Regions from separate parts of the Homo sapiens genome. Here region 2 is linked to region 1. A link means that fine-mapping ties the variant in region 1 to the expression of a gene that starts in the linked region. Tissue or cell type: whole blood. Region 1 holds a variant in brackets; the other region holds the start of a gene. All regions are shown on one strand. Distances are between the middles of the regions.

What was found. PIP is the estimated chance that this variant, and not a neighbour inherited with it, causes the effect.
Region 2: MED8 starts here. The variant in region 1 is fine-mapped to the expression of MED8 in whole blood (INTERVAL, PIP above 0.99).

Annotation. Positions count from the first base shown.
Region 1 is chr1:43,294,019-43,300,418 of GRCh38, forward strand. No RefSeq gene overlaps it. Among named protein-coding and RNA genes, the nearest start is that of TIE1, 3.8 kb to the right of the region's middle. The variant A/G (reference allele first, on the strand shown) is at 3,397.
Region 2 is chr1:43,387,310-43,392,742 of GRCh38, forward strand. It overlaps MED8 (mediator complex subunit 8), which reads right to left and starts at 2,491. Exons shown (of 7, transcript NM_201542.5): 1 at 2,450-2,491; 2 at 1,001-1,119; 3 at 194-338. The coding sequence starts at 2,455. It overlaps SZT2 (SZT2 subunit of KICSTOR complex), which reads left to right and starts at 2,590. Exons shown (of 72, transcript NM_001365999.1): 1 at 2,590-2,686. The coding sequence starts at 2,660. RefSeq lists an enhancer at 1,001-1,140 and a silencer at 2,581-2,910.

The sequences.
Region 1 (6,400 bases):
TGCCATAGTTCACTCCAACTCCCCAGTGGGAGCCAGTGTCCCTTCCTTAGGGTGCGGGCAAGGGTGGAGCTGGCAAAGCACCAATATGCCTTCAGGGAGAAAGGGCTAGGGAAAGAGGAGTTGAGACACTGCCTTCAAGCCTTTCCTCATCATCCCTGTGTCACCACGAAATAAATCATGCATCATGAGCACTAATGGACTTGTGTTGTCACTACCTCTTATCCTCAAAGTAAGATTGAAGCCAGGGGTGGTAGCACACACCTATAGTCCCAGCTACTCAGGAAGCTGAGGTGGGAGCATTGCTTGAGCCCAGGAGTTCGAGGCTGCAGTGAGCTATGATTGCGCCACTGCACTCCAGCCTGGGTAATAGAGCGAGACTCTGTCTCTAAAGTAATAGTAATAATAATAATAATAATAAATAAACAAAGTAAGATTGAACAACCAGAAAGCAGCCCCCATGTGTGGCTCCTGCAAAGAATGCGTGGCTGTGGCCCGAGCCAGCTTTGTCTCATAAAATGTGTTTTGTATGCTAAGTAGGCTGCTGTTGTTTGAGGCAGAAGAACAATGAGTCACTTGTGTCATGTGCTATTGGGTGTGCTATTCTTCTAGGATTTCAGAGTGACCTGAGCTAAAGCAAGGACCTGATGGAACTTAAAGGCAAGACATCCTTAAAATTCATGCCTGCCCATCTCTCCTGGTCAGCCCTTGCCTTTTAAAGGGCACCACTCCATCATCACACAGCACAGAGTTGAGCTCATTGTTTTCCAGAATAAAATTTCAGATGCATGCTGGATACAAAAGGATTGTTTTTCTTCAATCATTTTTAAGAGTTTGAAGGATGACATGCAGATGAAAGCAGCCTCCCTGGGTGTGCTGGCCTTCTTCCTGTCTAGGTAGTATAGTCTAACAGGCCTTGGGCATAGTTAAGCTCTCTGGCTGTGGATCAAACTGTCTGGGGTCAAAGCTGAACACCATCACTTAACTAACCTGAGGATGCATCTGTTTCCTCATCTGCAAAATGGGGATCATAATAATGACACCCGGCTGGGTGCGGTGGCTCACGCCTGTCATCCCAGCACTTTGGGAGGCCAAGGAGGGCGGATCACCTGAAGTCGGGAGTTCGAGACGAGCCTGAGCCCGACCAACATGGAGAAACCCCATATCTACTAAAAAAAAATACAAAATTAGCCTGTAATCCCAGCTACTCAGGAGGCTGACGCAGGAGAATGGCTTGGACCCAGGAGGTGGTGGTTGCAGTGAGCCGAGATTGTGCCATTGCACTCCAGCCTGGGTGACAGAGCGAGACTCCATCTCAAAATAACAATAATAATAATAATAATAATAGTGACACCCATCTCAAAAGGCTGAGAGTCCATGAGGTGTAGGCATCACCTTTTCCCGGCACCTGTAAACCCGTAGCAACTGTTAGCCATTATAATTGAGGTTTGTTGGTGTTCTAGCATAAGACTCTGCATTGCTGGGTAAATTCCATTCTGACCAAAGTGGGTAAAAGTTTGTTATGCTTTACTAAGTACACTCTGAGCTTCTAACTGCCTGAACCCTATGTGGGTGTTGATTTCAGTTTCTGACCTCACAGGACTCCTCTGGGCCAAATGGCCTTTGTCAAGCAGTTTCTATAAAAGGGACTTCTTTCAGAGCCTTGTTGAATTAACTGGGGCTTCCTTTAAATAAGGGCTTGTTTTTAGAAGCTTTCTTTTTCCAACAAGGAAAAGAACACAATGGATTCCAAGTAATCTCCAGTCCTCATCACAGCTTGTCACAAACACCTGGCACGTCTTTTCTGACTAGAGTGAAAACACACACACACACACACACACACACACACACACACACACACACACACACTAGCTTCAGGGACACAGCCTCAGCCTGATGCTCCAAAAGCATTTACTGCAAACTTCCTCTCACTACAGAGTTATTTCCTGGAAGAACAACAAAAACTGTTTTTGAATTGACAATGTGGCTTTAGTTGCTGCTGAAGTTAAGTGAAAGTACCAACCATTGTTACTATTAACCTAAACAAAATCTTAAAAGAATTACTTTCTTTTTCTTTTCTTTTTTTTGGACAACAACAAGAACAAGATATTTTTCCTTTCTTTGCTGATCAGTATGAAGAATGATTTATCAGTAAAGTCAATTTCAGGCAAAGGCAGAACTTAGGAATTGGGTTAAAGTGTTGCTTATTTCAACCAAAAGAAAACTTTCTAATTTGTTTGGGCAGCATTTACTTGGTTCTTCGAAAAGCAATTGTGACAAACAGTACAGAGAGTTAAGGCACTTATTGGCATATAAAAAGATGCCAGCATTTGGAGTTGCACATAACAAAGAAATATCTTAAATACTTTTCAAAATATTCTAGGAGCCAAGACACAAGGGCATGCTTCAGGAGAACACAGGAATGTAATTTGGGAGGAAAATTGCAACTACCCCTTCCCTTTAAAATCACTGAGCAAAACAAAGCAGCATTCTACTTCACATACTGACTTTACATAGTTTATATATAATAGTTTGACTTTAAGAAGCAAAGATGGGACTCTCACTGTTTATCTTTTATTTATTCTTTTTTATTTTTTGAGACAAAGTCTCACTCTGTCACCCAGGCTGGAGTGCAATGGCATGATCTCAGCTCACTGCAACCTCTGCCTCCTGGGTTCAAGCAATTCTTGTGCCTCAGCCTCCCAAGTAGCTGGGACTACAGGCGCGTGCTACCACATCTGGTTAATCTTTTTGTATTTTTAGTAGACATGGGGTTTCACTATGTTGGCCAGGGTGGTCTTGAACTCCTGGCCTCAGGCGATCTGCCTGCCTCGACCTCCCAAAGTGCTGGGATTACAGGCATGAGCCACTGTGCCGGGCCTCTCACTATTTTGAAAAATAATTGCATGGTCACCCATGTAACCCACCCCAGTCTGGCAAGTTTAATTGGGAGAGGTCTCCGTTACTTAGAAGAGTACCAATTTGACACTTTAATTCAGATAGCCCTGACTTCATTTTTGGGGAGCAACTTAGAGAGGTTCATTCTTTCCCCCCTGACTCATCCTCTGTTGATCCAGTCCCGAATTTCACCAGCTTTTTTATGCATAATTTGCATAACAATTTCACCCAAATGGATCTCAACTGAGCATCATTTCTGCAAGAAGACTATGGAGTTTGTCTATAGAGAAAATTAAATCAAATTCATAGACATTTTTAAGAGTCTGTCAAATGTTTCCACATGTATTTACATGTGGTCTAAAACCCTAAGGGCATTGTAAGAAGCCACACAAAAGACCCAAATGAATGTTCTAAGGGGCATAAAGCAGTTTGTTGTCTGAGCCACCTGTTAAGGGAAATGAGTGGAACTTGGAGAGTCAGGCTTTCCTGTCCCTCTTGATC[A/G]TGACGGTCACTTGGAGAACAGTGAGTCCAACCCGCTGGGGTGGCCACAGGGGATGGACCTTTACTAACATAAAAGAAAAATTTTTTAAAAATTCTTTGAATGGTTTCCAAATGAGCACTCCCTCCAAAGTGGAACTTAATACCACAACAGATATTCACCCTGTGCAAATACAGGTTGAGCACCCCAATCCGAAAATGTGAAATCTGAAATGCTCCCAAATTTGAAACTTTTTGAACACTTTGTGATGCCACAGGTGAAAAATCCACACCTGACCTCATGTGATGGGTCATATATATCATATGAAATATTGTTTAAAATTACCTTCAGGCTATGTGTATAAGGTATGCATGAAACATAAATGAATTCCATATTTAGACCTGGGTCTTATCCCCAAGATATTTCATTATGTATATGAAAATATCCCAAAATTCAGAAAACCTGAAATCTGAACACTTCTTGTCCCTAGCATTTTGGATAAGGGATACTCAACCTGTACATGCAGTATGAATATATATTCCTATTTTTTTCTTTTTTAGGCAAACGCTAACATACAATATACACTTCTGTACCTTCTTTTTATCACTTACTAATTAGTATGTCTTAGAGAGCTTTTAAAAACCAGTATATAGACTTGGAGAGTTTCTTCAACTAATTTCACAGCTGTTATATTTTACTGTATAGCTACATCAAAATTTATTTAACCATTTCCCCATTGATTGACACAGGAATTGGTCCTAATCTTCTGCCATTACATATAATGCTACAATGAATAACCATGACATTTTGTACTGTGGGAGTATATCTGCAGGATAAATTCCCAAGAATGCAATTGTGAGTCAAGGATACGTGTGTTCATGAATTTGACAGATATTCCCAAGTTGCCCTCCATCAGAATTACATCAACATGCCTATATAGAGCATGCCTATTTCCCCACAACCTTGCCAAGACAGTGTGTTATAAAACTCCCAGACTTCTGCCAAACTGATAGTGAGTATGGTAGTGAGGAAGAGTTTTTTTATTTTTATTTTTATTTTTGAGAGGGAGTCTAGCTCTGTCACCCAGGCTGGAGTGCAGTGGCGCGATCTCGGCTCCACTGCAACTTCCACCTCCCGGGTTCAGGCGATTCTCTTACCTCAGCCTTCTGAGTAGCTGGGATTACAGGCACGTGCCACCACGCCCGGCTAATTTTTGTATTTTTGGTAGAGACGGGGTTTCACCACATTGGTCAGGCTGGTCTCGAACTCCTGGCCTCAAGTGATATGCCCGCCTCGGCCTCCCAAAGTGCTGGGATTACGGGTGTGAGCCACTGAGCTTGGCTGTTAAAAAATAAATTACCTTGAGTTGACCTGGCGCCTTGAGTTTAACTCTATCATTATCAATTCAGTTTGTTTTGGGTTTGGAGGTTAACCCTCCAATGTGTAGAACTTCATATTTGCATTATTTTTGGCCTATAACTTTCGAGTGACTGAGACTTCAAGATGTGCATTATGGCTTAAGTCGTCTTATACATCTGCAACAGCAGATGTATACACAACCCACTCAAAATTTGTGTGTGCAGTAATATTTCATTTGGGACATATTGTTTGTAAACTGATGCTATTTAAATTACTTGCAGCATAATCTCAACACATGTAAAAATACTTTTACACTTGTAGGATATTGTTTTATAATACAAATTCTTGTGTACAAACTCCATTAACATTTTATTTATGTACAGATCATTATTACCAGTTTTTGTTTCCCAGTTGAGAGTGGGGAGGGCAGATGGGCTCAGAATCTTTGCATGTGCCAGCATCCTGCAGTCTCAAACTTTTCCATTCAAAGCAAATACCTGTGCCAATATCTGTGTCACTTCCAACAAGAATGAATGCTGCCTAAGTGCTCTCCACACATTTGCAAAATGACATCAGGCCCCCCAGGTCTTCCAAGAACCAAAGGAAAAGTTCCACAAAAGTGAATCCTGCCATACAAACAGTCCCAGCACTTTCCAGCTCCTTTTTCATTCCAGATTCAAAGGTCTGGCACCAGGATGAGCTGAAGTGTAAGGCATCCACCACTCTCCCCCTGCTCCTACTCCCATCCCACCCAAAGCCTTGTCTAGAGAAAGCTCCTCCCAGCCTCAGGCCCAGGAATGGGAATCTCTGTGGGTCACACATCAGTAGGGAGGTCTTTCCCGATCCTTTTCTATGCTACTCCAGGAGTCAAAGCGTCTCCTGGGACTTTTCAGGGCGCTTCAGAAGAGCCCTGGGCCTAAACCAGCTCAACCAAGCTGCAGGGACCCAGCCTCCTGAGAAAAGTGAATGTGAGCCCGGTGCATTCAGAGGAGAATGAAGCCTTCACCCAGAACACACTCTGGGAAGATGTCCCAGGCCCAGGGGGAGGGTTTGTACTACCAGACCTAAGTCACCTAAACTGACACCAAGTCTCATCCATCCCAACCATTCCATTCCGGGTCAGAGGGGTCATCGATTTAACCAGCAAGGCTGCCCATCCAACGGTTGCTCCCTCTGCTCCCTGGAAGGGCCTCCTCGTGGGCGTTCTGTACCTACAGGTCTTGTTCCGTTCTGGGAACTGCCAGTGGTGGCAAGAGGTGGAGCAACGGGTGCCAGGGCAGGGAGAGGTGAGTCTGGGAGGGAAGCAGAGGCAAGATCCATGGGGCTTTAGAGACTTTGCCAAAGCAGTGCGACTGCTCCCAGGTTGTTGTCAGCCGTCAAGAGTGAGTGCACCTCCCTGGGCAGACTTCTGCTGCCCCAGTGCCCAGGAATAGGCAGGGGTTTGCCGCAAAATGAATGACACCTGGCAGACAATAAGCTGAAGCTTTCATTAGCAGCTTAAGCTGAGGACTATCTATGCAACCGATACTCCCTGTGTGCTCCCCGGGACTGCTTAATGTGAGCCCTTGTGGAGCGATTGGCACCAAGAAAGCAAGGACTAAGTCAGAAGTTCAAGTCCCAGCCTTGCCACAGCCTCAGGGTGCCCTCGAGCACAGCAAGCCTCAGTTT
Region 2 (5,433 bases), 93 kb after region 1:
ATCAGCCTTGGTGACATACCCCTCAGGTTATTACAGCACTATTTGGGAGTGGCTCTCCCGCCTTCAGAAGAACAAAAAGCAAGGCCTCCAAAATTATTTCTAGGCTCTCAGCTAATAACTTAATTTCCCTAAATACTAAAGAAGCCTAAAAAACCCCTTAATTTCCCAAGTTGTATTCTTTTTCTCCTCTTACCATGAGATCTTCATCTCGGTCTGGAGACAACACCAGAGGAATGATGACCTGGTTACGGAACAGCGGTGTTTTTTCATGCTTCAAGACCTTGTTCAGAGTGTTCAGCTGTCCAGAAAGCAAGGCAAAGCTGTCCAGGACAGATGGCCTGGTGGTGGTAACAAGGTGTAAGAATGTTGTACCCCTTCCCTGGGTGGTTCTTAGTAAAATAGTCCTAGTTCCTTCAGGCTAGGAACACTTGGATTCACCTCCAAAAGTCTCATAGCCCTATGACTAGCCTAAGTGGGAACAGACTAACAGGGATGACAGGGCTATGAAAGAGGGACATAGTTTCAGTTTATGAAACAGACGTAGAAAAAACCCAGTTCATTGTTTGAATGGGGTGAGGAACAGTGGCAAAATAGGAACCAGGGCTACACTGTTATAACTAAAACTTCAGAAACCGGGTAAAAGCCTCCTTTCCAGCCTGGAAATAAGATCCACACTTCAGAGTAGGTTGGCTCTAAAAGACTCAGCCACATCTGTGGCAAGAGATCCAGCACGAATAGAGCTGTAGTGGGAGGACCTCCTCACCAGAGAAGTCAAAGGGTAAGAATTGAAAGCTAGAAAGAACTTGGGTTAGGAAACTGAGCATTTCTCTACTTCCTTGCCATGGAATCCACTTGCTAAATGTTAGGAAACCCAGCTCTTTCCAAATCAAAAGATGTTTGCAAACTGATAAATGGTTACATCATTAGAAATGTCCTATTCATCAGGAGGCTAGGCCCCCCCACCCATAAGCCCTTCCTAGCTTGCCCTGGTAACTCTTACCAGGTCAGCCGGCCATACTCGTTCTCCAACTTGCAAATGAAACTCCCCAGAGAGTTCTTCAGATCAGCCACTTGACTCAGCAGTGCATCTAATGATGCCTCAAGCTGCTTCTCCTCTCTCTGCACCAATAGGAACAGGTTGGTCACCCAGATAAACGAGTATGACACATAGAAAGGAGGGCTGGAAAGCCAAGGAGATGGTGTGCAACACCAGTCAGGTAACACAGGATCTCATTGGCATAGGATAGCCAGGTTGTTTTCTATCTTTGGTATTTGGGTTATAGACAGCATCAACCCTGAGACCTTCCAACCTGTTTGCCTGACCCCAAGTCCTTCCACCAACTGATTCCTTTTCCCCATCACCTCCTAATCTATGCCTGGTTTTTCTCTGTGTTAGGTACACCCTACACTCCCTCACTGAGACATTTTCGACAGACCTAATGCCAGGAGATCATTCTCTCATGTGCACCTCTGTAGCACATGCACTCCAGCTTCCTCCATCCTAGCATCTGTGAGCCTGGCTGTCTTGTCAGTCTCTGGGAAATCTGCCTACTCATGAAGACTTCTCTGAACACCAGTCCTGCTCTCCCCTTTCCCTCCCCCAACCAACGACTCCAGCTTTCCATCTGCTCTCATCATTTTGTTTCAACCTTCTCCTTGCTGAATTAATATGCAATCATCTATCTCTGTGTCAATATTCCCGTGCCTCTTTCACAAGCTCAGTCAACCCATTAACATTTATTGAGACTACCAGCTGCAAGAAACTAAGTGACAAATGAAAAACAAAAACCACACATGCTTCTAAGCACTGGACAAACAAATTAAAATGCTGGGGGTCTGCAAAGCATTTCCTTCCCATCGGTGGTCTCCTGTTTTACTCCATTTCTTCACCCTTAACAACTATAGGGCACAGGCTGGGAAGAGGGATGCAAAACTGTCTTGCAAACCTGCCTGACAGAAACTTGATCCCGGGTTCCACCATGGCCTCTGATTATAAGCTGCTTAGCTTTCAGCCATCGCGGCCCACAATTCCCTCACTGCTTGGGCTTCTTTCCAATTAGATCCCCTGCTATATCGGCAACCAACAGCCTCCATCCAGCAGCTTAGGACAGGGCCTGAGCCAACCCACCACCTTCTTGAGCCGTCTTCCTTGGACTGCATCTCAGCCTCCCCGTATTACAACCTAATCCTTTCCCACGCCAAGCAAACAGGTGCTGCCTCCTCCCTCCGGATTTAGCCCGACTGTCTCCTGTCAGGCAAGCTCCACCCCCACCTCTAATCGCCGCCGCTCCCGCTCCAATTAGCCTCGCCCCCCAGCCCACATTCCCTTATCAGCCGTGGGTTCTGCCCTCTCTTCTCAGTCCCAACTCTTCATTCTCCTTAGCCAGCCCACTCTCGGTCCCTGTACCCGAAGCTTGCCAGCCGCTAGTACGCCCAACGCAACTCTCACCTGCATTGCGGCGGCCGAGGCGGCTGCCACGATTTCACTTCCGGTTTTCCAGTCAGCAAACGCCTACGAGAAGGCTTCGTCCACCAATCAGAAAACTGGAACTCGGCCCTCCCACCAACTTCCGGTTCCTGCTGGGTGCCGAGGTAGCGAGGTCAGGGGTCAAGAGTGGAACACCCTCACTGGCCCGGGCCGGCGCGGGAGGGCTGTGTGATGGCCTCGGAGCGCCCGGAGCCGGAGGTGAGGGGCGGGCGGGCGCAGCACTGGGCCCCGAGATCCGAGGGGGAGGGTCCGGCGGGCAGGCGTGGCGTTGGCCTCCTCTAGGTCTGGGGGTGGCCGGGCTGCGTAGCCTCGGCAGGGACCAGCCCAGCCCGGAAGGCCCGACTATGGTACCCCTGCGGACTGTGTATGGGACGCGGTCCGCAGTTTCCTCGGGGAGCTAAAGGAGTAACTGTTCGCTTTGTTTTGTTTACTGACATGTCACCCGCGTCGTCGTCTCTAAGACTTATAGCGGTGTTAACAAAACTTGTATTTTGACTTTCTGTTGCAGTTTCAATGGGCAACACGGCAGTAGATTTACTTTGCTGGTTTTTGCATTTCTTTAGGCATTGGAATACCATAAACAGCATGAATTTATTTAGTTCTAGGGCTCATGCTTTTAGAAAAGCAGCTTTAATTTCATGAAAAAAACATTTGAGTCGGACTGAGACCTCGTTCCAATATTGGCGCTGTCATGTAGCTAATCTGTGCAACCTCAGGCGAGTCTTCCCGGATCCTGTTTCCTTCTTTATAAAATATCTGTCTTATAGTGTGTTGTGAGAATCACATGTAATAAACCAGAAAGGTGATATGATATATTCGTTAAATGCTAAGGAACATGCAAGGAACCTTATATATGTTGTGTCATTCAGACTTGTGCAAGGAAGGTGGCATTCTCACAGAGGAGAAAACTGAAAAATGAGAAAGATTTAGTACCTTACTCAAATGCCACTCATCCAGGAACTAGCAGTTTGGAGTTAGAAGATCTGAGCTTAAAATCTCAGATTCGGATAAAACACCACCACCAGGAAAGGTGCCAACATATCAGTAGGTGGGAAGGGTGAGAGATGTGTATAATGATAGAAATAGTATTCATTACTGCATACATACTGCATGCTCAGTACCATTCTAAGCTCTTTACCAATATCAGTTAATCCTCAGCCCTATGAAGTGGACACTGTATCATCTCCTTTTTTTAGTTTAGGAACTGAGGCACAGAGATATTAAGAGTAACAAAGTAAGCCGGGCGCAGTGGCTTACACCTGTAATCCCAACACTGGGAGGCCGAGGTGGGCAGATCACCTGAGGTGAGGAGTTCGAGACCAGCCTGACCAACATGGAGAAAGCCTGTCTGTACTGAAAATGCAAAATTAGCCAAGCATGGTGGCGCAGGCCTGTAATCTCAGCTACTCGGGAGGCTGAGGCAGGAGAATCGCTTGAACCCGGGAGGTGGAGGTTGCGATGAGCTGAGATCATGCCATTGCACTTCAGCCTGGGCAACAAGAGTGAAACTCCGTCTCAAAAAAAAAAAAAAGTAACAAAGTTACACAGCTATTAAGTATTAGAGTCAGGACTCCAAAACAGATGGCCAGGCTCCAGTCCTTGTGTTCTTAACCATATTGTTCATGGTATAAGTAATAAAGTAGCCACAGAATGGTAAATCTCCAGTTCACTGGGATTTGGTGTGGTAAGACCCAACATTGAATATGGTGGTAGGAAACTATGCCTTATTTAAAATAGTCATGTTCACAGAGGTGGTAGAATAGCTCATGCATCAGAAATATCAATCAAGATCAATCAGAAATATTAACACAAGAAAAACTATGAAACAGTTTAGAGGATGTTTCATTATAGATTAAAGTGAAAGGAGGTGGAGGGATGTTGTGGGGAAATGCAACATACCTTTTAGGCAGATAGTCTAGGACAACACCGTCCTGTAGAAATCTAAAGCAAGCCACATGTGTAATATTAAATTTTCTGATAGCCACATAAAAAAATGAAACAAGGCCGGGCGCGGTGGCTCACGCCTGTAATCCCAGCACTTTGGGAGGCCGAGGCGGGCGGATCACGAGGTCAGGAGATCGAGACCATCCTGGCTAAAACGGTGAAACCCTGTCTCTACTAAAAAAAATACAAAAAATTAGCTGGGCGTGGTGGCGGGCGCCTGTAGTCCCAGCTACTCGGGAGGCTGAGGCAGGAGAATGGCGTGAACCCGGGAGGCGGAGCTTGCAGTGAGCTGAGATTGTGCCACTGCAGTCCAGCCTGGGCGACAGAGCGAGACTCCGTCTCAAAAAAAAAAAAAAAAAAAAAAAAAAAAAAAAAAAAAAAAAAAATGAAACAAATGAAATAAAATGTAATTATATATTTAACCCAAAACTCCCAAAATTTTCAAAATGTAATAAAATACAAAACATCGTGAGATATTTAACATTTTTTTTGGTACCAAGTCTTTAAAATCTAGTGTTGTATTTTACACTGATAGCACATCCCATCTTGGTCTAGCAACATTGTAAGTGCTCAGTAGCCCCATATAGTAGTCTTTACCATATAGAGCAGTACAGATCTAAAGTAATTTCAAGTCAAGACACACAATCCTGGGAGTCTCAGCCAAAAGTTAAGCTTTTTTTTTTTTTTTTTTGAGACGAAGTCTCGCTCTGTCGCCCAGGCTGGAGTGCAGTGGTGCGATCTTGGCTCACTGCAACCTCCGCCTCCCGGGTTCACGCCATTCTCCTGCCTCAGCCTCCCAAGTAGCTGGGACTACAGGCGCCTGCTACCATGCCCTGCTAACTTTTTGTGTTTTTAGTAAAGACGGGGTTTCACCGTGTTAGCCAGATAGTCTCAATCTCCTGTCCTCGTGATCCGCCTGCCTCGGCTTCCCAAAGTGCTGGGATTACAGGCGTGAGCCACCGTGCCCAGCCTAAGTTAAGCATTTTTTAACTCCCTGATTT